Linked DNA regions of Homo sapiens: all the other regions are linked to region 4. Evidence: fine-mapped expression QTL. A gene starts in region 4. Each other region holds a variant in brackets. All regions are shown on one strand. Distances are between the middles of the regions.

Region 1 (4,167 bases), 87 kb before region 4:
GCCCAGGTCTCTGTCTCACTTTCCCTTTGTGTTCCCGGGCCTGGCACAGATGAGGGACATAATGAATTAAGGAATCTCCCATCTCAGGGCCTGCGTGGCACCCATCAGCATCAGGGCCTCTGACCCCAGTGGGTGAGAGGAAGTGCAACCCCCCCCCGCCCCCCTGAGCGCAGGGCCTGCCGCGAAGAGAGCAGAGCTGTGAAAGGAGACTCAGTTTACCCAAGGTGGAGTCTCAAGCACGTCAACATGGGGGCTGAGGAAGAGACGGGACATCTCCGCGGCGACAGAGCCCAGAGGCACTTAAGAAATCTTAGTTCTTGTCCCCTCCTCATAAGCACTTCGGGGACAGGTTTCCTGTGTTCCAAGTAATTTAATTCCCATGGCTCCCGAAAGGCTGGAGCGGTTTCCTTTTCAGAGGCTGTGGGTGCCTCTGAGAAGGAAAGTCACAGGCAGTATCGGTCTTGCCCATGTTTTTCAGTGCTGTGTGTCCAGCGTCTGAAAGCATGCGGGCACACAGTAGGTGGTGACAAGCGGACGAACTGCCATCGGCGACAGCTGGGTAACTCGCCAGTGCAGGGAACAAAACCCGCCTCCAGATAAGAAGACCCTGCAGGCCTCCCGCACCCTGTAATTTGGATCTCCAGGAATCGCCTTTGTTGTGGGCGCCCAACCTCAGGCAAAGCGAGCACCTGCTCCTCCCGCCGGTCCTCGCAGGAGGACCCCAGGCTGCTGCGCCCCGGCTGCCTCTCCGGGTCCCTGCGCTCCGCTTCTCCGGAGCTGGGGGACCGGGGGCGCCCCGGGACCCGCAGCCAGGGTCCGCCCAGCGCTTCCGAGCCGTGGTAACGCGCCTCCCCAGGTGCCCGACACCCCGCCCGGGGCCAGCATTTTTCGCTTCCTAGGGCCGGGCCGGGGGTCTGGGGCTGCGTCAAGGGCCTCGTCAGGCACCCCCAGGCCTGCGGGGGCAGGATCCTGAGTCACCGCCGCGCACGCCCTCTCCTCCCGGCTTCCATCCTGGGGCCACCTCCAGCCCGCAGGGTCGGGCCCCGGCGCAGCCGGCTCTCTGCGGGTCTGCTGTGCGCCCCTCTCCCCAGCCCGAGTCACTGCGGCCGCCGCCCCCACCCCTGGCTGGCTCGGGGGAGCCTCGCTTGTCCGCCCCTCCCATGAGAAGCCCGAGCTCTCAGCGCTCCCGGGCGGCTCCCGCGGGAGGGGGCGCGGCCGCCCCCACGGCTCCACCCTCTCGGCGGGGCCGCAGCCATCTGGGGCCCCTGCCAGTAGCGGCCGCTCCGGGGCCCGCACGGAGCTCGCGACCCGCTTGCGCGGCGGGAGGCAGCCCCGGGCAGGGACCCCGGCCTCCTCAGCGGGCGCTCCCGGCGCTGAGATGCCCCGAGGGGGCGGTGGCCGCGAGCCGAGCCCGGGTGGAAGCGCGTCGCAGCGGACGCGGGCGCCCCTCGCCACCTCAGTGACCCTTTGGGAGCCGGGACCGGAGCCCCGCAGGCGGCGGTGCGGGCCCGCGGGGGCGGCGAGGTCCGTGCCCCTAGCGTCCGGAGCGGGCGCAGGCTGCTGAGCCTCGGCTGGGCTCGTTGCCTCCCGCCTTTCCCCCCAGCCCCCCGCGAGCTGGCAGGAGGAAATAGCGCGCGGCCCCTTTAAATTTACCCAGGAGCCCTTAAAGGAGCCCCAGGGGCCCCAGACAGGAATCCCCACCCCGGTCCAGCCCGCGCCGCCGAGCGAGCAGCCTGCCGTCCGTGCGGCCGGCCGCCCCGTGCATGCGCCCCGCGCCCCGGGGCCCCGCGCAGCGAGCGCTCCGCGCGGGCTGCCGCCGGCCCCGCGGCCCCGCGCCCCGCCGCCCCGGGGCCCCGCTCCGCAGCGCAGCGCATGGAGCCCGGCGGGGACCACCGGAGCCGGAGCAGCGGCGGCAGGGGCGGCCCCGGGCCAGCAGTGGCCTCGGCACGGGGCCGACGGCTGCCGCCCGCCGGATCGAGCGGCAGCGCGGAGCCAGAGGAAGACGAAGGCGGTAAGAGCTGGGGCCGGCGGCCCGGGCGGGGGCCCCGGCGTGGGGGAAGGGAGGGCTGCGGCTCGGGGCCCCTCTCCGCCGCCGAACAAAGCGGGGGACGCGGGCAGGGCGGCCGGGGGCGCCACCTGGTGGGCGCGGAGCGCGGCTGCAGGGCTGGCGGGGGAGCCCCCCGCCCAGCTCCCGGGGTCGGCTCGCGGGGCTCGGGCGGCTCGCCTCCCCCTTAAAGGGCCCCGC[T/G]GCCGCCCGCAGCGCCCCGCCTTGGGGGCCAGGCCCGAGGGGCCCCACGGGGCAGGGCGCCACGGAGCGAGGCTGGACTTTGGCCCCCGCCCCTTTCTCTTTCAGACTCCCAGGTGGTCTCCCTAATCGGGCTTTCTCTCAAAAGTCCGCCCAGACCCTGGGTCCCCTTCGGGGGCTTTTCCCCAGCGGAGCTGAGCTCAGCTCCGAACTCTGCTGTTTTAAATCGGGCTGCTCCTCTCGTCTCGTGGCCTTGTGAGAGACATGCACCCTTTTTCTTTTCTCCCACATTCTCCCTAGGAAAGTGCATCGCTTGCGCCCCGGGGGCCCACACCATCTTTTCCCACCGCGGGCAGTTTTTAAAGCGATGGGTTCGCCCACAAAGGCAGGCACCCCTCCGGCCGGTGCATTCTCCCTTCCCTTCTTTTCAGAATTTTTTTTTGCCCTAATTTGTCAGCTCTAGCGGAACCAACCAGTCCTCCTCGTTCGCTCTCAAAGGAGACTGTTGACTCATTTCCCGGCTGCAGGGTCACGCCTTAAGACCCTTGAGGGTTTCCTCCAGGCCAGGGAGACTCTGCCCGAATCTCCAGGCTCCCCTCCCGGTCTCTCCCCTCCCAGAAACGCCCCATCCCCTTTTGTTTTTAAAGAACCTCGGCTCCTCCCCCTTTTTCGGCTCTTAAAGGGCCAATCCACCTTAGACTAGCCTGGATCCAGCGCTGGAAGGATGCTTAGAGACCAGCCAGCTAGCCAGTGTCGTTGCAGACAAAGAAGCTCAGGCCCAGAGTGCGGACATGACCTATCAAAGGTCACAGAGCAAGTTACCAGTGAAGCCAGGACTTGAACCCAGGCCTATGACTCCGAAGCCAGTGGATTCTATGGATCTACTTAAATAAAAACTAAAACAAAAAAACTTCCACAAGGGTGACAGGAGCCCTTTCTGATCCTGTCTTTTGTTTTCCCAACCCTGTGATTCTCCACTGGGAGAATGACCAGAACCTGCCTGTGTGCCCAGGAGACCATTTTTCTAAATCAAGAGGGGTGGGAACTGTAGGGAGGGTAGGGGACTGCTCTGGGTGGGTGTCTGGCACAGGGAACACCATTGGGTTAGTGGGGCCTCTCCAGTGCCCGCCCTTCTGACTGCTGGGCAGTGGCCGGCTCCCTGCCAGAGCAGCAAATAAAGCCCCAGAAAGACTTAATGGGCTTCAGTGGATGGTGGCCACTCCCTGCCGCAGTGTCATTAGTTGTCACTCTGGTGGCCCTCCTGCCATCCCTTTACAGGGTCATTGGCTCCTCCAGAATCTGGAGAAGTTTCAGTCTCAGAAACTCCTTTCCCTGGAGATGTTGGCAGCTTTGTCTTGGGGATCCCTCCCATGTGGGGGCCTAGATTTGGGGAACTGACAATGCCTAGCCCATCCCCAAAATGGGAGTCTCAGGAAGCTATATTTGAAGCATTACTGGAAAAAGGGAGAAGACCTGTGGGTGGGGCCCTCCTGGCGGGGGCCCCAGGTGGGTGGGTCCCGTGTGCAGCCCTGGCTGTAGACAGATGCCCCCTTTGTTTGTCTGGCCCCACTGCCTGCTCTGCTCCAGCTGGAACCGCCCTGGCCTGCTGCTCTCCTGGCTTTCTCCCTACGGCTCTTGTCCAGAAAGGGCACCTTACAGAGCTGGTTGGCTCCTTGGCCCTCACCTTATTTTTTAAAAAGTCAGAGCTATTTCCACAGTGCCCTGCGTCCTTTTGTTCTTGATCTCCTCTTAAAGGGTCCTTGCCCTTTGTAAAGGGCTAATGTTTTGGCTCCCACTTCTACCATCCCTTTTATTGCTGTTGCCGTCCCTTTCCTGCCCCGGAACACCCCCTCCCCCAGCTCCCTTTCTCAGGGCTCACCATCAAAGCCCTCGCCTCTTTCCCTGGAAATCAGAGATTGAAAAAC
Region 2 (4,167 bases), 48 kb before region 4:
ATGGTGAAACCCTGTCTCTACTTAAAATACAAAAATTAGTGGGCGTGGTGGTACGCGCCTGTGATCACAGCTACTCGGGAGGTTGAGGCACAATAATCATTTGAACCCGGGAGGCAGAGGTTGCAGTGAGCTGAGATCACACCACTGCACTCCAGCCTGGGAGGCAGAGTGAAACTGTGTCTCCAATAAATAAATAAAAAAAAAAATCCTTTGAAATTTGCTGAGTTGTTTTGTGGGCCTAGTAGTATATTATCGATACCAATGAATGCATACCTTATACACTTGTAAAATAATGTGTATTCTGCTATTGTAGGGAGTAGTGTTCTATAACCACCATCTAAGTCAAATTCATTGATTGTACTGTTCAGATACCTGGGTGTGTCTAGTTAATTGCTGAGAAAGAGGTATTAAATTTTCCAATTATTACAGATTGCCAATATATCTCCTTAATTCTGCCTTTTTGGGAGACAGGGTCTCACTCTGTCACCAGGCTGGAGTGCAGTGGTGTGATCATGGTTCACTGCAGCCTCCACCTCCTGGGCTCAAGCAATCCTCCGCCTCAGCCTCCTGAGTAGCTGGGACTACAGATGCATGCCACCAAACCAGTTAATTTTTGAATTTTTGTAGAGATGGGGGTCTCTACAAAAAAACTCCAGGGTAGGGTTATGTTGGGTTAAGGGTTATGTTGCCCAGGCTGGTCTCAAACTAGTCTCAAGTGATCTTCTCACCTTGGCCTCCCAAAATGTTGGGGTTACAGGCATGGGCCATTGCCCAGCCAATTCTGTCAATTTTTGCTTTGTGTATTTTGAAGCCATTATTAGGCACATACACACTTATAACTGTCAAGACTTCCTGGTATCTTTTATCATGATAAGATGTCCCTTATTTATTTCTGATAAAAGCTTTCATCTTCTTATGCTTACTGTTTGCATGGCATACATTTATAAATTTTTTGGGATATCTTTTCCATCCATTTACTTTCAACCTGTGTCTTTATATTTAAATAACATCTTTTGGCCGAGCACGGTGGCTCACGCCTATGATCCCAGCACTTTGGGAGGCCGAGGAGGGTGGATCACTAGAGGTCAGGAGTTTGAGATCAGCCTGACAAACATGGTGAAACCTCATCTCTACTAAAAATACAAAAATAAGCCAGGCGTGGTGGTGAGTGCCTGTAATCCCAGCTACTTGGGAGGCTGAGGGAGGAGAATCCCTTGAACCCGGAAGGCAGAGGTTGCAGTGAGCTGAGATCACGCCACTGCACTCCAGCCTGGGTGACAGAGTGAGACTCTGTCTCAAAAAATAAATAAAAATAAAATTAATTTAAAAACTAGTTGGGCATCGTGGCATATACCTATAGTCCCAAAAAGGTGAAGTGGGAGGATTGCTTGAGCCTGGGAGGTTGAGGTACAGTGAGCTGTGTTCATGCCACTCACTGCACTACAGCCTGGGTGACAGAGCGAGACCCTGTCTCCAAATATATATATATTTATAGTACCATTACATTAAAAATGTAGAAACAGGCTGGGCATAGTGGCTCATGCCTATAATCCCAGCACTTTGGGAGACCAAGGTGGGAGGATTACTTGAGCCCAGGAGATCAATGCCAGTGTTGGCAACATAATGAGACTCTGTCTCTACTAAAAAAATAAAAAAATTAGCTAGGTGTGGTGGCATGCACCTGTGGTCCCAGGTACATGGGAGGCTGAGGCACGAGGATTGCTTGAGCCCAGGAGGTCTA[G/C]GTTGCAGTGAGTCATGATTGCACCACTGCACTCCAGACTGGGATACAGAGCCACAGAGCCAGATCCTGTCTCAAACAAACAAAAAAAAAAAAAAAAAAAAAAAGCAGAAACCTTTGCTATAGTACAGTCCATATACTCGTTTTTTTCTGTTATAATTGTCCTAAGAAATAAACATCATAACCTCTATACACGTTATTACAATTTTTGCTTTAAGCAATCCTATATATTTTAAGAAATTAAGAGGAAAAAAATAAGCCTTTCATATTCACCCAGGTGTTTACCACTTCCAATTCTCTTCATTCCTTCCTAAAGGTCTGAGTTTTTATTTGGTATCACTTTCCTTTAATCTGAAAAACTTCCTTTAGCATTTCTTGTAGTGCAGGTCTTCTGGTAGAATTCTTTTAGTTTTCTTTTATCTAAAAATGTCTTTTAATCTTGCAGTTTTTTTGTTTTTTTTGTTGTTTTTTTCCTGAATACAGAAACCTGGGTTGACAGGTTTTTTTTCCCTGTTGGGCACTTTATAAGATGTTACTCTACTGCCTTTTAAACATCTGTGGTTTCTAGTAAGAAGTAAGCTCTAATTATAATTGTCATTTCCCTGTGTCATTCTTCTCTAGCTACTTTCTTTTCTTTTTTCTTTTTTTTTTTTTTTTGAGACGGAGTCTCGCTCTGTCGCCCAGGCTGGAGTGCAGTGGCGCAATCCCGGCTCACTGCAACCTCCGCCTCCTGGGTTCAAGTGATTCTCTTGCCTCAGCCTCCTGGGTAGCTGGGATTACAGGTGTGCACTGCCACCCCGGCTAATTTTTGTATTTTTAGTAGAGATGGGGTTTTACCATGTTGGTCAGGCTGGTCTCGAACTCCTGACCTTGTGACCCACCTGTCTCGGCCTTCCAACGTGTGGGGATTACAGGCGTGAGCCACCGCGCCCAGCCTCTTCTCTAGCTACTTTCAAGATTTTCTCCTTATTTTTGGTTTTCAGCAACTTGACTACGATACACTGTATAGGAAAGGGTGAAAACTCAGCAGGCCTAGAATGCCAAGCCCTGCACATGCCAAAGAAAGGTCTGTCTTCAGGACTAGCCCTTTGCTGGCTCCTTGGAGATGGCCTCTGAGCCCTTTGAATATTCTGCTTCATAAGTATTTTTGCATGCCTGAGGTCTTAGGCCATGCTGTATCAGATAAATTTATCCTAACAATATGATTTATTGCCAGTACATGTTTTTGCTCTGGGGGTCTGGGGTCTGAGTAGCTGAGTTCAGTCATATGGGCACTGCATGCCGTGCTAGACACCAAAGATTGAAAGAGCTTCCTTGGTTGGGAATCCTTTGCACATGTTATCACGCATCACTGTAAAAGAATTAAGTACATCCCTGTATGACTCCATTCAATACCTGGAAGCTTGCATCTGATCTCTCCTAGATTTTATCCCGTGTGTCTTTTCCTCTGGCCAATTCTAACCTATGTCCTTTTGCTGTAATAAACCATTAACTGCTAGTTTACAGTTTATGAGTCCTATGGGTCCTTCTAGCAAATCACTGGCCCTGATGGTTATCTTGGGGACCCCGACACATACACCAAGGTATGGTTTTCTTTGTAATTATCCTAGTAGGTGGTGTTTGATGAGCGTCTTTCATCAGTAAATGTGCCTTTCATAAAATTTAAGAAAATTTCAGCCATTTTATCTTTAAATATGTCCTTCTCCAGTCTCTCTCTCACTTTCCTCTCCTGCTAGGACTCCAATTATAAAAAATAGGTTTTGCAGGTCTCGCACTCCTGGGCTCAAGTGATCCTCCTGCCTCGGCCTCCCTAAGTGCTGAAGTGGTGGGATTACAGACGTGAGCCACTGTGCCTGGCCAAAGTTAGGTCTTTTGATATTGTCCCACAGGGTTCTGAAGCTCTGGTGACACTTTTAAAAAATATGTGTTCTTTCTGTTCTTTAGTATGCTATCAAGTTCACCAGCTTCTTCCCCTGTCATCTCCATTTTGCTGTTAAGGTCACCTGCTGAATTTTAATTTCAGTGGTTATATTTTACAGTTCTAGAATCCCCACCTGACTCTTTTTTGTTTCGATTTCTAGGTTGAGATTTTCTTTTTTATTCAATACAAGAATATTTCCCTTTACTTCTTTGAGTGATTAAAATGAAAACCCTTAAAATCCTGACTCCTAATTCCAACACATGCAGTTAGTTTCTATCGATTGTCTCTTTTTCTTCAGACTGAGTTATAATTTCTTGGTTCTTAAAACATGTAGTTTTGGATTATATCCTGGACATTGTGAATATTATGCTGTACAAATTCCAGACTGTGTTCTATTCCTCTGGAGAGTATCATTACTTTTGTTTTAACATGTAATAAATTTGGTTAGATTCAAACTGCAAACTTTTTTTTTCAAGATAGAGTCTTACTCTGTCACCCAGGCTGGAGT
Region 3 (4,167 bases), 40 kb before region 4:
TCACTGCAATGAAATGGATTATATTTTTAAAGATTTATTCATAAATAAGACAATTTTAAAAGGTTTTCACTTTTGAAAGCTGCAAGAAAGGCCTTTAAACTTCTTGGTCTAACTATACCGGTCTTCTTTAATTACAATCTAAAAACATACACTAATCATAGACTTTGGTCAGTGACAAATATCCTGAACTTCCATAGCCCTTTACATCTCTCACGCTAGATTAAATAATTCAGTTGATAATCACTAATAATTAGCATTTACACAGCACTTTATTTACTGCAACATACAAAGCAGGGCAAAATAATGATCATCACATTAACAAAGGAAGATGCTGAACCAATTAGACTAGTCATCTAAGGTCATGCTAAAACAGGAATTTGCCAGAATTAGACACTGGAGTTCTTGTAGCATAATTCCTATATGCCTTATTGCCCAAAAGTTACTACCTGTAAGAATTATGACAACTGAGGAAGAAATCTAGAATGTACCAGAGCCAGAGAATCATATTATTTAAATGATAATTGAAGACCATCTACTTCACTTTACATCCTCACTTTACAGATATTAAAACTGAGGCCCCCGAAAGGTTATGTAAGTTACTTGTTCAAAGTCATACTTCTAGACACAGCACAGCAAGAATTAGAACCTAGTACTCTTTAATCCAAATTCAGTGAGCTTCAAATGCTAGAGTATAAGAGCTATCCTTAATTGGTAATTCAAAATTTTTGGTTTATCAAAAAGCCTCAATGTCTTTCACTGATAATTGTTAGTGAAATAATTCATATCATTCATTCAACAAATAATTATCCAGTACTACTTATGTGGCAGGCCCTGTATTTGGTGCTAAATCTGACTGCATATTTACTATGTGCTAGGCACTGTATTACCTGCATTTTCATATTTAATCCTCACAATACCATTGTAAGGTTAAGTACAATTTATCTATTTTAAATATTAAAACTTAAAAAGATAAATCTACCTACAGTTTCCAGTAAGAAAATGCCTTTATAAAAAGGCACAAAATCAAACACAAAATACATTTAGCCTAACAAAAATCTAATTTTCTTGTAAATACTACAACTCTGTGTATGATTTCATTTGATAAAAGATCTATAATCAAATAGTTTAAAAACCACAGACCTCTACATAGCACCTAACACTGACCATACAGTAGATGTAAAACTTGGTATTACATTAAAGGATGGGGGTCCCTTGTAGAGGGGCTTGAAAGATCCTTTTTTTTTCTTGTACTTTCCAAGATCCCAGAATAGACAGCATTTGCAGTAATCTAACTGAAAGCCACTTGCTAGAAAAGTGATCATTTGAAATAGATAAAAGACAAGAGAAGGGGTTTCTGGTACCATCTAATAATGAGTTTTGGCCTGAAGAATATTAAATAAGATAGAAAGTAGAAGAATGCATGAGTTCTCCTAAGCATTACTCACAAAATAGTACTACAATACTGGTTACCTACTTTCAGAGCATAAAATCTCTATAGTATACGATCACATTAATTAAAAGTTTCATTTACTATCTTTCCCAGCAGGAATTCCTTTATCTTTGATTGCTAAGATTCCACAAAGCACATATCAAAAAATCCAAGTGCTAAAAAGTATGACAATTATGGAGATTTAAAAACAAGCTTTGTAAATAAGTAAGAACCTGATGATATTAGATTCTCACCTAATATCACCTTAGGGGCAACCTATAAGAAAAGAAGTACCTTGAAATATAACTGGAGCATAGAAAAAAAATTTTCTTTTTTTTTTTTTTTTTGAGACAGAGTCTTGCTCTGTCACCCAGGCTGGAGTGTACTGGCGCGATCTCATCTCACTGCAAGCTCTGCCTCCCGGGTTTACGCCATTCTCCTGCCTCAGCCTCCCAAGCAGCTGGGACTACAGGCGCCCGCCACCACGTCCAGCTAATTTTTCTGTATTTTTAGTAGAGACGGGGTTTCACCGTGTTAGCCAGGATGGTCTCAATCTCCTGACCTTGTGATCCGCCCGTCTCGGCCTCCCAAAGTGCTGGGATTATAGGCGTGAGCCACCGTACCCAGCGAGCATAGAAAAAATATTTAGGGGAAGATTAATGTTACAAAGTGGTCTACTGCTTTGGGAAATATTGATATTAAGGAAACCAAATCAAGCAATCATTTAAAAAAAGACAGGAGAAGAATCTGCCTTTCCCATCATACAGCATATTGTTTTTGTATTTTAGCCATAATTTTGTAGGTATAAATCAGACTAACA[T/A]AAATGGCACGCTGATAAGTAATCAATCACAGAATTAACCACATGCAGTATTCTAATATAAATGGTTACCTGAGAAGTCTGTCAGAAGTCTTGCTAGGACATGCTTTTTTACCAATTCAGTCTTGCTAAGGCTGGAAACAGCATCTACCCTAGTAGTTTCTCTGATAGTGATGGGCTTCTGGGAAATCCCAAGATCAGATCCATTCTTGACATTACGTTCTAGGATGTCATATGATCTCTGTGGCCAAGATTCTGGAGCAAATGTGAAAGTTTGCTTCAGTACTTCTTCAGAAGGCAATTCTGCGTCACGCTGTGCAGAAGTTGACTTCTCAACCTGTCTTTCACCTAATTCTTTAAGAGCCTTAATTGTGAGCTGTTCTTGTTCTAAGTCAAGAGATGCTACTGGAGTACCTTGGGTAGGGAAAACACCTAGAGGCTCACTTCCATTTGTTTCTTTGCTTTGTTCACTGTATTTGCTTCCAATGTCTTTAATTTCAGAACCACCGGACTCATTTTCATGTAAGACTTCTACAGGAGGAGTTGTTTTAAAGTCTGTCATCTTCTCTGATATTGCTTTAAAAGCATTTCTTTCACTATCTACTATTCCTTTATCTCTGGTTTCTGTAAAGGCTGCTATCAGGTCCTCTGGGGAGGAATCATCTATATGTTTAACATTTTTCCCATGTAATGACTCCAAATAGGCAGATGTTGTCACATTTAATGAGAATTCTGTCTCATTAAAAACATTTGGAGACACTGTTGAAGGAAGTTTGGGGTTCTCAGTAGTAATAGGCTTTTCAGGAGCAACTTCACTCACATCTTCTAAGGAGACATTCGTATCGGGTACTTTTGAACATGCTGCCTCACTAGCTGGACTCCTTCCAAGAATATCAGGCTGATCTTGATGCAGCTCAGAGTCACTGACCAATTCTTCAAAGTTTTTAGATGTTTTTTCTTCTCTCTCACAACTGGGAATCTCTTTGATTTCTCTTTCACCTGTTTTTACAACAGCACTTGGAATGGAAACAGGTTTTTCAGCCTGAATTTTGTTATTTTCAAATGATGTATCTGCTGTGATGTCCTCTATTACTGTGTCATCAGACTCACCAGAACTATCAGCTTCTGTGATTTCTCCCAATGCAGAGCTCTGCCAGTCCATTTCATCTTTCAGGTGGTCATCAGGTAAAACCACTTTCACTGTGGCCACTCCAGAACCCAAAGAGTCACATTTCTCAGGTGGAGATCCAGGTAATTCTGCAAGTGTGTCATCCTGTTTCTGCATATTGCCTTGCACACCTTTGATACTGAATTCTTTTGTGGAATTCAAAGAGTCAGGTACAGGTTTTCCAGTAATAGCATTTTCTTGCTGGAGAGATGCTTCTGCCCAATCACCTGTTGATTTAGTGATGGGAGTGCTCCCATCAATAGAACATACAGGAGTTTTCTGATGAGTGCTAGTTTTAAGATTTACAACTGGAATTTCTGAATTATATTCACTCATGTCAAGTCCTGTAGTTTTTGTGATGCAGTCAGAAGATTTATCGGTCTGTTGTTTCACTTGGGGAACCAGATCCCAAGTCAGTATTTCGTTAGTAAAGTTATGCATATCATTCACGCATCTGGACACCTCTTCCAGTGCTGCATTTGTGTGTGAAAACTGCCTACTGAGCAATGCAGACATTGGGTAACGTCCTGCCTCTTTATTTCTCAGTGGAAAAAGCTTGTCATTAGTCTCTGAAATGTCTTCGGATGATTCTTTATCAGTGTGCACAGACCAGCTACCAAAATCATCTGTGCTCTCCTTATATGAGTCTTTAAATTCTTTGTCAAATGCTGCTTTGTCAATAATTACTTCAAATGGTGATTCAGGGGAATCCTTTTCAATAACATCATCTCCTGAAACTTTGGATGGAGACAA
Region 4 (4,167 bases):
AAAAGATCAAGTTGCTAAGTTATAAGGAAGTCGCTGTTCATCTGGACCTTAGCCCAGAACACAAAAATTTGGAGAAAAGGCTGGTGGTTTAAAGGAGACAGGGTTCTAAATTTGCTGCCTCATTCTTTTATCTGCAAAAGCTTCCTGATACTGCCTGTTTCTACTGAAATGGCCATAACCACACTGAAAAAATCCAACAGGGCTCCAAAGCTCTCAGACAGGTGAAAATTCACTGCTAGAAAAACACGTAGAGAATAATACATTTAAGGTTAAGATCAGAAATTTTTTCTTTAGAACCCAAGATTCTGCCAAAGGAGACAACGAAGCATTAAAAAAAAATGATCAAAATCCTTTAACATAACTAAATAGAGAGCAAAATTATCTCTACTCTCCCGAATTTACGGCCCTGCCTTTGACAAAAGGCATTTTTTTTCCCTTCAAAGACTCCGTTCCTTTGAGAACTACCACCTGCCCATGGTGGTTTTTTTTTCCCCCCTTAAGAAGGCATCTGCACTGCAGATTTCTGCATAAGGGGAGCTTGCCAGGCAGCTCTTACCAGCAGGCAGACGCGTATACAATGCAAACTAAAGGAGGTCTGCAGCTTCGTTCTTAGTCTTTCACAGAGATGGGAGAAGGGGACTCAACCAGCCCTTGCTTTGTCTGAATGTTCTCCCCCTCCCCCTTTCTGCAATAAACACCCCCCTTTGTTATACTTCGATCAATAGTAGCCCACAGAAAACATGAAATCAAAACATGTTGATAGCTTAGCATGACTCTATTTTCTAGAATATAAGCGACTGATTGCGTGTCCCCACCCCCACGCAGCGCCAGGGAAGAGCAGGCTGTTGCAGATGCAGCCACGGATCCATCTTGGACCATTAGCAGCTCCCTCCCAAATCTTCCCTGAGCTATTCTCATCACGCCTCCTTCTACCTCGGAGCCTCAGAAAAATCCGGCATTCATGGAGTCTAGCCGAAAACAGTAAAAACAAAACAAACAAACAAAAAAAACAGGCTACAATGCTTCCATTAAACTTCCTCATCCTTCCCATGGGCAGCCAAAAATATTTTGGAGGACTATCATGAATGCTTGATTATGTCAACACCTGTCTGCAAACCTGCAATGCAACCCTTTCACCACCATCCCCTCAAAAATAGTAACAAATTGTTTCTCCCACCACCCACCTGCCCGTATCCTTTCAATCTCTCTAATCCTCACTAAATCACCCAGGTTCACCATATGCATCGAGCAACTCTCCATTTTATCCCACGAGCTGGTATTTTTCCCCACCTGCCCAGTCTTGGCGTTAACGCCCACTGGACTATCTCCCCGCCCCCAACCTGTTTTCCTCACACCCCGCTATTTCCTCACCGCCTGCACAACCTTACGTTCCCCTTCCCCTTTGCCCATTTTCCAAACGCTCGTCCCCGGGGGGCTGAAGCCGTCAGTAGTCGAGGGTAATTCGTCCTCCTCCCGCCTCGCCTCCTAATCCCCCCAGCCCCCAGGCTCCCGCTCGCCCTCTTTCCCAGGGCGGGGGCTCCCCGCGCGCCTTACCCGCACAGGAGGAGCTGCAGCTCTTCGTCCCCAGGGCGGGGCAGGCTCCTGGGCTCCCGCCGCCGCCGGGCGCGGACGGCTCGGCTCCGAAGGACGACGAGGAGATGGAATGGGACTGAGTGGCCGCCGACGGCTCCGCCATGGCTACGCGAGCGAGGGTGGGAGAAGGGTGAAAAGAGATACGGGGCGGGAGAGAGGGAGGGGAAATAGAATAATCCGGCAACTGGCTCGCTCAAGTCCCTTTACTCCGCCTGCTCCGAGGACAGACTCCGACAGACTGACTGACTCAGCCGAGCGCAGCTAGAGGGCGGGAGCGCGAGCGCGCATGCGCACAAAGGGCCCCAAGCGGGTGCCAAAGCGCGCAGCGGCGCAGGGCGCAGGCGCAAGAACCGCTCCTCTGCGCTCTTGCAGGGAAGGAGGGGCAAAGCCGGCCTCACGCGGCGCCTCGCGCGCCGAGGGTTGGGGAGCGTCCCTTGGGGACCAGACGCAAAAGGCGTATCCAAGCCCCAATCCCCGCCCACGACTGCGGCTAATCGTGGAGCTGCGGGATAGTATTCCCTCCTGCCTCTTTATGTGAATGTTTTAGGGTCGGCAGATTATGTATTTTAACGGTAGAAATGTCTTTGGGCTTCCATTATGGAAACTCTCTTTCCCGTACATTCCAGAGCCTATATCTTTTGTTTGATGCATTCCCACCTGTGACTCCAATAAAAACTGAAAACCAGAGTGTAGAGTAGGCCCACTCTGCAAGGTGCTTTGTGAATCTCACTGGCTGTGTCGTAATATCTCCTCACCGAGAGGCAGAGATGGCACGGCCCCCCATTTGGTAGGTGGAGAAAGATGCTATACAGAATGAAAAACGATTACTCATTCCAATCACATTGCAATGCAGTCGCAGAACCTGCTTCGTATTCTTATCTCGTTACTGTTGCCAGAGAAGGGTCCACCTTGGGTCTTAAGGTTCTCTTTTCCTCCGAATAGACTGTCAGATAGAGACGACATATTTTAGAGAGGGAAAAAAAATGCTGAGCTGATGAAGAAGAGCCAGGAGATAAGAAAATGTTGGCTGTGATTATGGGGGATGATAAAATTAGATATTAAAAATTCAGAATAAGGCCGCAGTCAGTGGCAGAGGCCCGTAGTCTCTGCTACGGCAGAGAAGGGAGGATCACTTGAGCCCAGGAGTTGGAGTCCAGCCTGGGCCACACAGCGAGAACCTTCCTGCCTTAAAAAAAAAAAAAAAAGTAAAAAAAATCAGAATAAGGCACAAAATACACATAATTGAATTTTATTCATAGACTAAAAGAGGTCCTTAGCAGAACATGTATTTAAAACCAGATTTCTAGCCTATATTGGATTTTGTTCATTTTTTGCTTTTCCTGGGCTGGATTGCCAAATTCGAAGCCTTCTCCCTACATCTGGTCAAAATATTGGAAAGGTGCATAGTCTTTGTTAAAGGAGGACTGTTGGCTGGGCGCGGTGGCTCACACCTGTAATCCCAGCACTTTGGGAGGCCGAGGCAGGTGGATCATCTGATGTCAGGAGTTCAAGAACAGCCTGGCCAATGTGGTGAAACCCTGTCTCTACTAAAAATACAAAAATTAGCTGGGGGTAGTGGCGGGCGCCTGTAATCCCAACTACTCGGGAGGCTGAGGCAGGAGAATTGCTTGAACTCGGGAGGCAGAGGTTGCAGTGAGCAGAGATCTCACCATTGCACTCCAGCTTGGGTGAAAGAGCAAATCTCCGTCAAATAAAAAAAAAAAAAGGAGGACTGTATCCTGGAAATAATAAAAATCAAGGCTGTCGACTGTTACTGCTAAAGCAGCAATCGATGACCCAAAGTACAATTGCAGGATCAGCAGATCCTGTAAAGATGCAGCCTCATGAAGCGGGAGGTGGTCAGCCAAGCTGCCACTGAGGGGAAAGGCGATCTGACCAGTGGAAATCTTCTAGAACAAGCTGTGTACTACATCTGCCCTTGAGTTTTTAAGGTCAGGTAAAGCCCCAGGGGGTGGGAGGATGACTCCTGGCCTTTGCAATGCTCTGAAAAAGGCATAGAAAAATATTTCCCAAAATAACTTTGTGGCTAATACCTTACCCTGGCACTTACTGCATCAGCTGATAATGCAGCAAACTGTCTCTTGGATGGCAAAGGGAAATAATAGCAGATCGGATAACCAAGCCAGTTATCTACCCATTCTGATACGTGCATATGTTTTTTTAAAAATCGCATTATTAGGGGAGCTGTTTTCTTCTTCCTTCCTTCTTTCTTGTCTATTAAACGCTCTGCTCCTTAAAACAAAACAAACAAACAAAAATCTACATTATTAAGTGCTAGATAAGGAAATAAATGATGCTGGTAGCTAACTCTGACAGCACTTGCTACAATCTGGAGACTCCAGCTGGAAGGAAGTCCATTTTCCTAATATGTAGCAGCAGAGAAGTTAAAAAGCAAGATATGCACGTGGTCTTACTGGTCTTTTCAGACCCTTCAGACATTTTTTTTTTTGAGATGGAGTCTTGCTCTATTGCCCAGGCTGGAGTGCAGTAGTGCCATCTTGGCTCACTGCAACCTCCGCCTCCCGGGTTCAAGCAGTTCTGGTTCAGCCTCCT
Region 5 (4,146 bases), 300 kb before region 4:
GGTGGAGGGAGGGGAGGAGACCCCATAGTGGGACTCAGGGACTGTGAAACTTCAGCCTTAGAGGAAGTTTACACAACAGCCCAGAGGCCCCAAGGGGCCACATGGCTCCAGACCCACCCAATCTCTTCTGCCTCTGCCTCTCAGGGAAGGGAGTCAGGCTGAATGGACCAAGACAACAGGGGCATGGCATGGGCCCTGGAACAGCCACAGTCCTCACAGGAAGGTGTGGCCAGCCCAAAGCCTGGAAGGGTGGGCCACACATGGGGATTAGGCGACCATTCTCGGTGCAGGCTTGGGAGTCGGGCAGCTGCCCAGACAGCGGGAGTAGGGGCATGCTTGGCCCCCACATAAACCTTGCATTGTACCCACGAGAGTCTCCAGGCAGCAGCCCTGAAATCGTGGTCTAGGGAGGCTTTGACAGCAGCAAAGGCTGATGCGGCAGAGCAGGGTCTATGCCTCAGGGCCATAAGTTGGGCTGTGAGTCACCTGCAGGATTCAGACCTCCTAAGGCCGAAAGCAAGCAGAGGGGCAGAGGCAATGCAGGCAGAGCCCCTCCCAAGCAACTCCCACCACCCCAGTCCTCGCTGGGGCACCCACTGTAAGTGCTGTACATTCACTTCACTTTATGCCTGCAGACGGTCCCAGCAGCTGGGCCCAGACCCTCCCCAGGGCCTCACAGCACCACATGATGCATTACTTTCCTTATTGCTTCCGTAACGAGTCACCACAAACCTAGTGGCTTAAAACAACACAAATTTATTCTCTTACAATTTTTTTTTTTTTGAGACGGAGTCTTGCTCGGTTCCCCAGGCTGGAGTGCAGTGGTGCGATCTCGGCTCACTGCAAGCTCCGCCTCCCGGGTTCAAGCGATTCTCCTGCCTCAGCTTCCTGAGTAGCTGGGATTATAGGCACCCACCACCACGCCCAGCTAATTTTTTGTATTTTTTGTAGAGACAGGGTTTCACCATGTTGGCCAGGATGGTCTCGATCTCTTGACCTCGTGATCCACCTGCCTCAGCCTCCCAAAGTGCTGGGATTACAGGTGTGAACCACCATGCTCAGCCTCTCTTACACTTTAGGAGGTCAGAAGTCTGGGTTTCACCAGACTAAAATCAAGGTGTCTGCAGGCTGCATTTCTTTCCAGAGGCTCTAAAGGAGATCCACTTCCTACTCGTTCGGGTTGGCAGAAGGTAGGACCAAGGTCCCCATGTTCTTGCTGGCTGTAAAGGAGGGCTGTTCCCAGCTTCTAGAGGCCCCTGCAGTCCTTGGCTCATGGCCCGCTTCCTCTGTCCTTAAAGCCAGCAACGGTAGGCTAAGTGCTTCTCACTTCAGGACTTATGACGACATTGCGCCCGCCTGGATCTCCAAGGATAGCCTTTCATTTCAAGGTCATGACCTTATTCACATCTACAAAGCCCCCATGCCATGTAAGATAACATATTCACTGGTTCCAGGGAGTAGACCATGGGCATTTTCGGGGGGCCATTATTCTGTCTGCCACAATATCTTCATTTTACAAAACTGAGATTCAGAGACCAGATGACTTGCCCAAGGTCGTACAGTTCAGTGGCCATGCCAGGCCTCAAGCCCAAGCCTCCCCACTCCCAGACCACTGTTCCTGACATTACAGCACCTGCCGGGACTTTAGCCTCTCCAGTCAGCATGCACACCAGGCACAGAAACCCACACATGTGGACACAGAAAATGTTTGGGGTATAAGGATCCTTGCTTTCTCTATAGAGAATTGCTCCAGGGCCCTGAATTGGTTGGGGACAAGGGTAGGCCAGTGGAAGACCGGATTTCAGACCTAATGGCCACACAGGGGACCAAGGAGTTTGGGGTTCAAACGTGATAGGTCACTCAAACTCTACACTGTCCTGCCCACCCCTACATACATCACCCCACCCATCCCCACAAATGCAGGACATGGCAGGTTGTGGGAGGAAGAGGGGCTGGAGGAACTGCTGGGCTTGCTGAGGGCTTCTTCAGACCAGGGTCCTGAAGGACTTGCCTGGAGC[C/T]ATTGGTGTTGCACAGGTTGGGGCAGTGGCTCAATCAATCAAACTTTGGGCTGGAGCAGTCCTCCTCGGAGGGGGACCAGCACCCATCATTCAATTCCAGGGGCACAAAAATGGAGGACACCCAATCAAACCCTTAGCAGGGCAGTGGAGTTACCATAGAAACTCAAGACAGGCTGGGTGCGGTGGCTCACGCCTGTGATCCCAGCACTTTGGGAGGCTGAGGCGGGTAGATCACGAGGTCAGGGGATTGAGACCATCCTGGCTAACACAGTGAAACCCCATCTCTACTAAAAACACAAAAAATTAGCCAGGCGTGGTGGCGGGTGCCTGTAGTCCCAGTTACTCAGGAGGCGGAGGCAGGAGAATGGCATGAACCCGGGAGGCAGAGCTTGCAGTGAGCCGAGATGGCGCCACTGCACTCCAGCCTGGGTGACAAAGCAAGACTCCATCTCAAAAAAAAAAAAAAGAAAAAGAGAAAGAAAAGAAACTCAAGACAACAGGCTGGGTGCAGTGGCTCACGCCTGTGATCCCAGCACTTTAGGAGGTCCATGTAGGAGGATCACCTGAGGTTAGGAGCTGGAGACCAGCCTGGCCAACATGGTGAAACCCCATCTCTACTAAAAATACAAAAATTAGGCAGGTGTGGTGGCCTGCGCCTATAGTCCCAGCTACTTGGGAGGCTGAGGCAGCAGAATTGCTTGAACCTGGGAGGCGGAGGCTGCAGTGAGCCAAGATCGTGCCACTGCACTCCAGCCTGGACAACAGAGCAAGACTCTGTCTTCAAAAAAAAAAAAAAGAAAGAAAGAAAAGAAGGCTGGGCACAGTGGCTCATGCCTATCCTAACACTTTGGGAGGCCAAGGCGGGTGGATCACCTGAGATCGGGAGTTTGAGACCAGCCTGACCAACATAGAGAAACCCCATCTCTACTAAAAATACAAAATTAGCTGGGTGTGGTGGTGCATGTCTGTAGTCCCAGCTACTCGGGAGGCTGAAGCAGGAGAATCGCTTGAACTCGGGAGGCAGAGGTTGCCAATGACCCAAGGTCGTGCCATTGCACTCCAGCCTGGGCAACAAGAGCAAAACTCCGTCTCAAAAAAAAAAAAAAAGAAAAACTCAAGATCACACTTTTTCCAGTGCCACGTCCTTGCTGTGTGCAGCCCCGTGGTTATGAGACCAGCACCTCATCTGTGCCCACAGCCAGAGGAAAGCAGCCCTGAGTCAACCAAGGGCCAGGACACTCAGGGCCCTCTACTCAAGAAGTGCAGGCTTGGTGGGAATGCCCCGGCCTCCCACACCGCAGTGGCTGGTCCCCAGGGCCAGGGAGCTGCCAGCCAGGCCAGGAGATGGGCCTGAGAGGACAGTCAGGGGGCGCTCAGGTCCCACCTCCACAGGGACTAATGTAAGCAGAAAAGCCTCCCAGAACCATGCACAGAACAAGGGGTGGTCCTGTTGTGTGGAAGATGGCCATGAGGACCCTCCATCCAGAAACAAGGGACCTGTTGTGATACCTGTATGTGGCAGGTGGATTCTCCTAGGTCAGTACCCCATCCTGGCTCCAGATCCAACATAGGCTCTCCCCTCCCTGGCCGATGCTCCCACCGGGCACACCTGCAGCATTCTGAACCCCACTAGGGGCAACAGGCCCAGGCAGCTTCTCCCCGGCCCTCCAACTAGGCCCTGACCCTTCAGCCTCATATACAAAGTCTGGCTTGTGTGGAAGGAAAGGAGCCACCTAGGAGGCAGAGGACAATTTCCTAACGCTCAGGGAAACAGCTATGGCAGGAGCTAAACCCAGTACGGTATCAGGCACTGGGCCCCACAGGCTTCCCTGGGCATCACGCAGAAAAGCCAAGCAAGACCAGGCTACGGCAGGAGAGTCAGGTCCACCCTCAGCTCTGTCAACATAAATCAGGAAACAACCTGCAGAACAGGAGCTAGGAAGACGTGTGTTCAGACACTCAGGGCCTGAGGCCAACCACAGCCCTCCCCTCTCACCTGACATCTTTGCCCACTGTTCCAGGCACAGGCGTCCTGGCAGCCTCAGCTCCACAGGGGAGACTGAACCTGTGTCTTTTCAGAAATCAACCAAGTCACCCCAGCAAAGAGGATGCAAAGGAGAGGTAAAGC
Region 6 (4,167 bases), 59 kb before region 4:
GGGATTACAGGCATGAGCCACTGCGCTGGCCTACAATCCTAGTAGGTTTTTGTAAAAATGGACAAGCTAATCTAAAATTCCTATGCAAATTCAAATGTAAAGAACCTAGAAGAGCCAGGCAAGGCGCGGTGGCTCATGCCTGTAATCCCAGCACTTTGGGAGGCCGAGGCAGGTGGATCACAAGGTCAGGAGATCGAGATCATCCTGGCTAACACGGTGAAACCCCATCTCTACTAAAAATACAAAAAATTAGCCGGGTGTGGTGGCAGGTGCCTGTAGTCTCAGCTACTTGGGAGGCTGAGGCAGGAGAATGGCGTGAACCCAGGAGGTGGAGCTTGCAGTGAGCTGAGATCGCGCCACTGCACTCCAGCCTGGGCAACAGAGCGAGACTCCATCTCAAAAAAAAAAAAAACCTAGAAGAGCCAAAACAACTTTGAAAAATAAAGTTAGAAGATTAACATGACCTGATTTTAAATATAAAGCTACCATTATCAAGATGCTATAGTACTGGTCGAAAGATAATAGAGCAATAGAATGGTATAGAAAATCCAGAAACAGACAATTGTGCATTAAGAGATGTTTAAAGATTATTTCAGGCCAGGCGCAGTGGCTCATGCCTGTAATCCCAGCCCTTTGGGAGGCTGAGGCGGGAAGATCACCTGAGGTCACAAATTCGAGACCAGCCTGGCCAACACGGCAGAACCCCATCTCTACTAAAAACACATAAGTTAGCTGGGCATGGTGGTACATACCTGTAAGTTTCAGCTACTGGGGAGGCTGAGGCAGTAGAATCACTTGAACCCGGGAGGCAGAGGTTGCAGTGAGCCAAGATCATGCCACTGCATTCCAGCCTGGGCAATAGAATGAGACGCTGTCTCAAAAAAAAAAAATAAATGCTGGGCACGGTGGCTCATGCCTGTAATCCCAGCACTCTGGGAAGCTGAAGCGGGTGGATCACTTAAGGTCAGGAATTTGGGAACAGCCTGGCCAACATGGTGAAACCCCCTCTCTACTAAAAATACAAAATTAGCCAGGCGTGGTGGCACACGCCTGTAGCCCCAGCTACTCAGGAGGCTGAGGCACAAGAATTGATTGAACCCAGGAGGCGGAGGTTGCAGTGAGCCAAGATCAAGCCACAGCACTGCAGCCTGGGCGACAAGAGCGAAACTCCATCTCAAAAAATAAATAAATAAATAAATAAATAAATAACTATAATAAAATAAAGATTATTTCACCCCTTAATGCTTCCTGGCTTCCACTTGGCCATGGATCCCTACCTAGTAAAATACTTTATCCCCAGCTTTAGAGTTAGTACAGCACAGAAATGACTCTGGCTCCAGAATGCCTGAGTTTGTATCCTCTTCCATTTGCCAGCTCTGTGATTTTGGACAAGACACTCAATCTCTCTGTGCATCGGGTCCCTCATTTGTAAAATAGGATAATACAAGATCAACTTCATAGGGATGTTGCCAGGATTAAGTGGATTAATGTGTAGAAGTGCTCAGAATACTATTGATTAGATAGTAACACAATATCAGCTATTATTATTCATTTGACTGCCAACCTCTGCTACAATTGTAACAGAAAATTTAAGAATTGAAGTTAAAGTTAGCTATAGAGCAACAAGATTTTTTCCTTTCCTCTTTGTTGCCAGTAAGATACAAAGAAATTAAAGGTGGCTCATGACTGTAATCCCAGCACTTTGGGAAGTGGAGGCTGGAGGATCGCTTGAATTCCAAGAGTTTGAAACCAGCCTGGGCAACATAGTGAGACCCTATCTCTATTAAAAGAAAAAAAAAGGCCAGGCGCGGTGGCTCATGCCTGTTATCCCAGCACTTTAGGAGGCCGAGGCAGATGGATCACGAGGTCAGGAGTTTGAGATCAGCCAGGCCAACATAGTGAAATCCTGTCTGTACTAAAAATACAAAAAAAAAAAAAAAAAAAAAATTAGCCAGGCATGGTGGCAGGCACCTGTAGTCCCAGCTACTTGGGAGGCTGAGGCAGGAGAATCACTTGAACCTGGGGAGTGAAGGCTGCAGTGAGCCAAGATCACACTGCTGCACTCTAGCCTGGGTGACAGAGTGAGACTCCGTCTCAAAAAAAAAAAA[G/AG]AAACTAAGATGGGGAGGTTAGAAGGGGCCTTATTAACCAAATCTATTTTATGTATCAAACTTCCATATAAACTTTTCTATGAAAAAGTGTTGCGCTATCAGAACTATGATTAAATAGATTGGTGTGTAAATGATATACGGAGACAGAGGACCAGGAGATAGAGGCAGTATGATACATCACCTATGGGGCAGACCAGACCAACATAGAGTATAGATTTGGGAGTTATCAACATGTAGGTAGTAATTTGAAGCTACGGAAACAGAAGGGATCACTTTGAGGCATCTCAGCCCCTCAAATTCCACACATCAAAGAAAACATCATTTCTGACTGACATTCTTCCCTGATCAGAAAATAGTTCTACCATCCACCCAGAAACCCAAGACAAATACAGAAATAGGGTTCACTCTTCTTTCTCCCTCATCATCTACACTCAAACATCAGGGCTGGTTAAAGTCTATCTTTTTGAATTTATCAGAAAAAATTAAAGTCTTTTGATTAAGAGTCTTAAACATTTTTATGTCTTAAATTTACCTTCTATGAGCAGACTCTTTAGAGAAGACTGTCCAAGTCAGTGACTCTCAGCTGCATGTGAGATGGGATAAAGGACGTGGGATGGGGAGTAGATCCTGACTCCTGATGGTGCATGTCACCTTTTTAAAGCTATGGACAAATTATTGCTTGATTCTGGTTATGTGTCAGGTAGAGAATCACTACTGGAGAGAGCCACTGATACAGACAGGGAATGTCCTTTTCTTTGGGTGTGCTATGTGTTATCTTGGGTGTTCTAAAACAGAAGAGAATTGTGAGGCAATGGGCTAACGAACTGCCACACTAGTACACAACCTTATAGAGAAAGAATGAAGCCTTGGCTAGTCTCTTCCTAAAGTCCTACAGGGAAGTGACCCAAGCTAGTTCAAAAGGTACTGGAAAAATAAAAAGCCAAAAATTCTCAAAAGAACGAAGTCAATGTTCCCTTACTTTTCAGGTTACAACTTTATCTTTAATATCATATCACTTAATTTTTTTTCATTTAAAGGACCTTACTTTTTTCTCTTTTCGTGATTCATTACATAAGTAAAATCACTAATTTTTCAGTTATATTATTTTGCTAATGACAGATGAAACATCTGACAAGGAATGTCTGCACCAAGAGTTTACGTTGCTGGTGGAATTACGACTGATTCCTTCTTTTTATTTTCCAAATCTTTTGTAATGTGGCCATATTACTTTTATTTTAAAAACTTTAAGGTATTTATTTTAAAGTTTTATTTTATTAAAGTATCTATTTCTTGTCCCTGTTATTTAAGGACGCCGGCTGCAGTACCCAAGTTACACCTGAAGAGGGCACTAACACATCCAATGGTAATCTCAGGCTAAGGAAAAAGGAAATCAGTCTTGTGCCATTTCCAGGAGGAACAGCAGTAAACCTTACTGATTCCTCACCCGTTAATTTTATTACCGAATTTGGGGAAAGCTCTTGTTTTGATTCTAACTAGCCATTTCCAAAAGTCAATTGACTTTATTCTCCCAAGTATACACCTCAAAGGTAGAAAAGAAGAGCTGTTCAAATACTTATTCTGAAAAGGAACAAATGTGAAAGAAATTTCAAGGTTTAGTAGTCTGTCAGCTTTACCTTCTTTTTTTTTTTTTTTTTAAAGACAGGGTCTCACTCTGTCACCCAGGCTGGTGTGACTACAGCTCACTGTAGCCTCGACTTCCCGAGCTCAGGTGATCCTCCTGCCTCAGCCTCCCAAGTAGATGGGACTACAGGTACATGCCACCATGCCTGGCTAATTTTTTAAATTTTTTGTACAGATGGGGGTCTCAGTTTGATGCCCACGCTGGTCTTAAACTCTTGGGCTCAAGCAATCTGCCCTCCTTGGCCTCCCAAAGTGCTGGAATTACAGGCGTGAATCACTGAACCCAGCCACTTCATTTTTTAAGAACAAATAAATCTCCAATTCATTCCACCTTCCTTGCAACAGTTTCTTAAAACTTGTCTATAACACATCCCTAAGAACACTCAAACATGCCTGAAATAACTAAAAGGAAAAAAAA
Region 7 (4,167 bases), 59 kb after region 4:
AATATGGGAGGTTCTGTGAAATAGTTTGGCTTGGCAAAGTGAATAAGACTTCTGACGGGATAGTGGCAATGTGGTTTGAGTTAGCTTTCTCTGTCCTACAAAACGACACTGAACAAGTGTCTTACTAGCATAGTCCTGGAGAAGGCTCTATTGTTGGCAGGGTTGCTTAAAAGTGAGCACAAGGGCCAGGTGTCGTGGCTCACTCCTGTAATCAGCACTTTGGGAGGCTGAGGTGGGAGAAATGCTTGAGCCCAGGAATTTGAGACCAGCTTGGGCAACATATGGAGACACTTTCCACCTCTGTCTCTACAAAATAAAAGTGCATAGTGGCACCCACCTGTAGTCCTAGCTACTCGGGAGGCTGAGGCAGGATGATCACTTGAGCCCAAGAGTTTTGAGACCAGCTTGGGCAACATATGGAGACACCTTCCACCCCGTCTCTGGAAAAAACAAAAAACAAACCCAGGCATGACGGTGCGCACCTGTAGTCCTAGCTGCTCTGGAGGCTGAGGCAGGATGATCACTTGAGCCCAGGAGTTGGAGGCAGCAGTGAATTACGGTCCCATCACTGTACTGCAGCCTGGGCAACAGCAAGACCCTGTCTCTCAAAAAAAATTACGCAAATTTCATTTACAGTAACATGGACTTGTGAAGACCTCTGAATTTGTAGCACTTTCATTTAGTTGCCCCATCTGGAGCCAGCTGATTAAACAGTTGCTCTTCAGGGGTGGGGGCAGGGAACGTAAATCTCTACTTAAAGCTTTCTCTTTCACTGATGGACACAGTGAGGAGATTGAATTGAACTTCTCAAATACGACAAATAGCTAGACATACCCCATTTAGCCCTACAGTAAAAAGATTTCTTCCCAAGTTGGAAACACTGGGTGGGATCAGCAGACTTTCTCTATCCAACCATCCATCCCTGGTTGTTACCATGTGTCAGGTGCTTTGCCAGGTGCTGCCCTTGAGTTCATCACAGTTTAGCAGGGAAGGGGCAAACTCAGAGGCTGATGATGTGAAGAGTATGGTGAAAACAAAGATTCAGGACTTGGGTGCCACCATCTACACTGATGTGTAGACGCTCTCAGCATAAACTGGGGAGAAGGAAGGACCAGGGTGACGAATGCGGTCCTGTATAGATGGGGAGCAGTCAAGCAAGCTGGCTTGTCTTTGGCGCATTGACATTCTTGCTTTTGATTATCATATATCACTTTGCAAAAGACAAGTCCAACTCTAATTAGCTTAAAGAAGGAAAAAATTGTTAACTGGGAAAAAGTTTCTTGTAATCGGACATATAGGGGTAAAGCTGACATCAGGCACTGGAGGAACTCAAATGTCAACAGGGCTCTTATTTCAGTGTTCAGTGACCTATTTATCTGCTGTTGCAGATAGGTTTCCTCCATGCCCCAGGGGAGGACAGGCACCAGTGGTTCCAGGTTTATGTCATCCCACTTTAATGTGCCCTGAGGAAACAGGCTTTTTTTTTTTTTGAGCTACCTATGAAAAAACACGTGTGTATATCTCCATTCCAGAGAAGGCTTCTGATTTGTTTGGCTTGAGTCATGCTCCTTCCATGGTCAACACTAGCCTGGCCTCTGAGGCATTATAACCAGCCAGACCTAGGGTGCAGGTGTCTGTAGTCAGAGTGATGACCACGTGCTATGACTGACAGCTCCACCAGAACCACATGGAGTCACCAAATGAAAGACTGCTGGGCAGACCAAAACAAATAATCCATTACAGATAACCAATTCCAGTTAACAATGGCCATTGAACAACAAGAGACACAAAACCTGGACATTTCCCAGGTTAAAGGTTCTGGAATTTTTTT[G/T]TTGTTGTTGTTTGTTTCTCTGAGACTGAGTCTTGCTCTGTCGTCAAGGCTGGAGTGCAGTGGTGCAATCTTGGCTCATTGTAACCTCCGCCTCCCGGGTTCAAGCGATTCTCCTGCTTCAGTCTCCTGAGTAGCTGGGATTACAGGCGCCCGCTGCCATGCCCAGTTAATTTTTGTATTTTTGGTAGAGGCGGGATTTCGCCATGTTGGCCAGGCTGGTCTTGAACTCCTGACCTCATGTGATCCACCCACCTTGGCCTCCCAACGTGCTGGGATTACAGGCGTGAGCCACCAGTCCTGGCCTTCTGGAATGTTTTATTTTTATTTTTATCTTATTTTTTTTGAGACAGAGTCTCGCTCTGTGCCTAGGCTGGAGTGCAGTGGCTCAATCTCGGCTCACTGCAACCTATGCCTCCCGGGTTCAAGCGATTCTCTTGCCTCAGCCTCCTGAGTAGCTGGAATTACAGGCACGCACCACCATGCTAATTTTTGTATTTTTAGTAGAGATGGGGTTTCACCGTGTTGGTCAGGCTGGTCTCGAACTCCTGACCTTGTGATCCGCCCGCCTCAGCCTCCCAAAGTGCTGGGATTACAGGCGTGAGCCACCGTGCCCAGCCTCTAGAATGTTTTTTTTAAAGAGAAGGTAGAGATGGTTATGCTGCACATTTAGGCAGTGGAAGCTCTTCAGGGCATTTCAATAGGGATTTGTTCTCTTTCCTCTTCAGTAGGACTTGGGTTTCAAAGGGGATTCAGAAGGAAGTTATACTTCACTTTTGGTTTCTTTCATAAAAGCCTGATTTTTCTGGTCAGAGGAAACTATCAAAATTGGCATAGTCACATGTTTTACACCTGTGAAAACCCTGCATTCAGCTGGCTGGTGGAGCACTTGAGACATACTCCCATTTTGAATGTTGTCATGTTGTGAAATTTGTGGTTTCTGTTCCTTGTTGTGAACTTTGTGGATTCTGTTCCTTGTGTGCAAAGAAGCATTGCAAACAGCTTCCCTTTAAATGCAGTTTCCCTAAAAAAAAAAAAAAAAAAACAAAATGCAGTTTCCCTGTTCACTTTCTCTCGTCACCCTTGCACCCTTTCTTTCTCCTGCCCTGGCCTTCCTGTGTGTCACCCAGCTTGCTCAGATTCCCCATTGGGCCTATTAGGCCTGCAAAGCAAATTAGCCTGTGCAATTTTCTCCCACCTGCTCAGCTATTCCTCCTCAGAGAGTCAGCAAAACAATGGATTCTGGAGGATCCATCTATCCTCCTTAGAAGGCAGAGAATGGAGAGATTACAAATACTTAAAAACTGGCCAGGCATGGTGGCTCATGCCTGTAATCCCAGCACTTTGGGAGGCTGAGGCAGGCAGATCATCTGAGTTCAGGAATTCGAGACCAGCCTGGCCAAAATGATAAAACCCTGTCTGTACTAAAAATACAAAAATTAGGCGTGGTAGCGTGGGCCTGTAATCCCAGCTACTTGGGAGACTGAGGCAGGAGAATCGCTTGAACCTGGGAGGCGCAGGTTGCAGTGAGCTGAGATCATGCCACTGCACTCCAACACTCTAGTCTGGGAGACATAGCAAGACTCCGTCTCAAAAAAAAAAAAAAATTAATAGTTTCCTCCTTATCACAAGAGGAATGGGGCTTCATAGCCATGCTATGCAGAAAAGCCTGGAAGCTTTGGAGGTGGACACTAGTTGGATCCTGGCATCACAGTCCACCTGTCCACCTGCTCTGTGCGGGGGGTAAGGACCGTCTTGTTGGTGATGGTGTGGCATCATGGGGCAGTTTCTCAGTAAGTCCCGGGGCCTTTCTTAGAGAGCTCCTCTTTTGAGAACTGTGTGAGAAGTGAAAATACATAGCCCTCAGTACTGTTCCCCCTTCCCAGTATGATTTTTTTTTGGTTTTGTTTTGCTTTTTTTCTGGCACAGCAACAGGAAAAGATAAGGGAGGTGACATCTGGGTGCTTCTGGAAGCAGAGGGTGAGGAAAGGCAGAAGTCAGCCCGGCTGCCTCAAAACCGAACCTGTCCATCCTGGGTTTGGATGACCTTATAGTCAGTCCCTGGCTCAGGGTGCTCCGTAATTTGTTTGATGAGTGATAAGGCACATAAAGCTATGGTATTTATATTGCCTCTGAGTCTCCTTGTCAGAAAGCTGGTGAAGATCATGTGATGTTGATGGGCACATACCTATTCTCATGTTAATAACAGCCACCGTGTGTTGTGTGAGGATTTACCACGTGCCAGACGTCAGGCTCAGCACTTTATTTTTATTTTATTTTATTTTATTTTATTTTTTGAGACGGAGTCTCCCTCTGTCACCCAGGCTGGAGTGCAGTGG

What was found.
Region 1: its variant is fine-mapped to the expression of RTN3 in whole blood (TOPMed, PIP above 0.99). The same link has a PIP of 0.9 or more in monocytes.
Region 2: its variant is fine-mapped to the expression of RTN3 in whole blood (TOPMed, PIP above 0.99). The same link has a PIP of 0.9 or more in blood mononuclear cells.
Region 3: its variant is fine-mapped to the expression of RTN3 in whole blood (INTERVAL, PIP above 0.99).
Region 5: its variant is fine-mapped to the expression of RTN3 in whole blood (TOPMed, PIP above 0.99).
Region 6: its variant is fine-mapped to the expression of RTN3 in whole blood (INTERVAL, PIP above 0.99).
Region 7: its variant is fine-mapped to the expression of RTN3 in blood mononuclear cells (TOPMed, PIP above 0.99).

The regions. Positions count from the first base shown.
Region 1 is chr11:63,766,328-63,770,494 of GRCh38, reverse strand. ZFTA (zinc finger translocation associated) reads left to right here and starts at 1,720. Exons shown (of 5, transcript NM_001144936.2): 1 at 1,720-2,011. The coding sequence starts at 1,873. RefSeq lists silencers at 904-1,373, 1,394-1,603, 1,734-1,783, 2,004-2,303. The variant T/G (reference allele first, on the strand shown) is at 2,246.
Region 2 is chr11:63,727,115-63,731,281 of GRCh38, reverse strand. The region is part of intron 3 of RTN3 (reticulon 3); the gene reads right to left. Among named protein-coding and RNA genes, the nearest start is that of ZFTA, 40 kb to the left of the region's middle. The variant G/C (reference allele first, on the strand shown) is at 1,742.
Region 3 is chr11:63,719,184-63,723,350 of GRCh38, reverse strand. RTN3 (reticulon 3) reads right to left here. Exons shown (of 9, transcript NM_001265589.2): 3 at 2,319-4,167. Among named protein-coding and RNA genes, the nearest start is that of RTN3, 40 kb to the right of the region's middle. The variant T/A (reference allele first, on the strand shown) is at 2,250.
Region 4 is chr11:63,679,166-63,683,332 of GRCh38, reverse strand. RTN3 (reticulon 3) reads right to left here and starts at 1,833. Exons shown (of 9, transcript NM_001265589.2): 1 at 1,555-1,833. The coding sequence starts at 1,696. RefSeq lists a silencer at 1,541-1,660.
Region 5 is chr11:63,978,831-63,982,976 of GRCh38, reverse strand. No RefSeq gene overlaps it. Among named protein-coding and RNA genes, the nearest start is that of OTUB1, 5.5 kb to the left of the region's middle. RefSeq lists an enhancer at 3,675-4,146. The variant C/T (reference allele first, on the strand shown) is at 2,019.
Region 6 is chr11:63,738,229-63,742,395 of GRCh38, reverse strand. The region is part of intron 3 of RTN3 (reticulon 3); the gene reads right to left. Among named protein-coding and RNA genes, the nearest start is that of ZFTA, 28 kb to the left of the region's middle. The variant G/AG (reference allele first, on the strand shown) is at 2,109.
Region 7 is chr11:63,619,889-63,624,055 of GRCh38, reverse strand. All of the region lies in intron 1 of LNCROPM (lncRNA regulator of PLAAT3 mediated phospholipid metabolism), which reads right to left. Among named protein-coding and RNA genes, the nearest start is that of LNCROPM, 5.7 kb to the right of the region's middle. The variant G/T (reference allele first, on the strand shown) is at 1,832.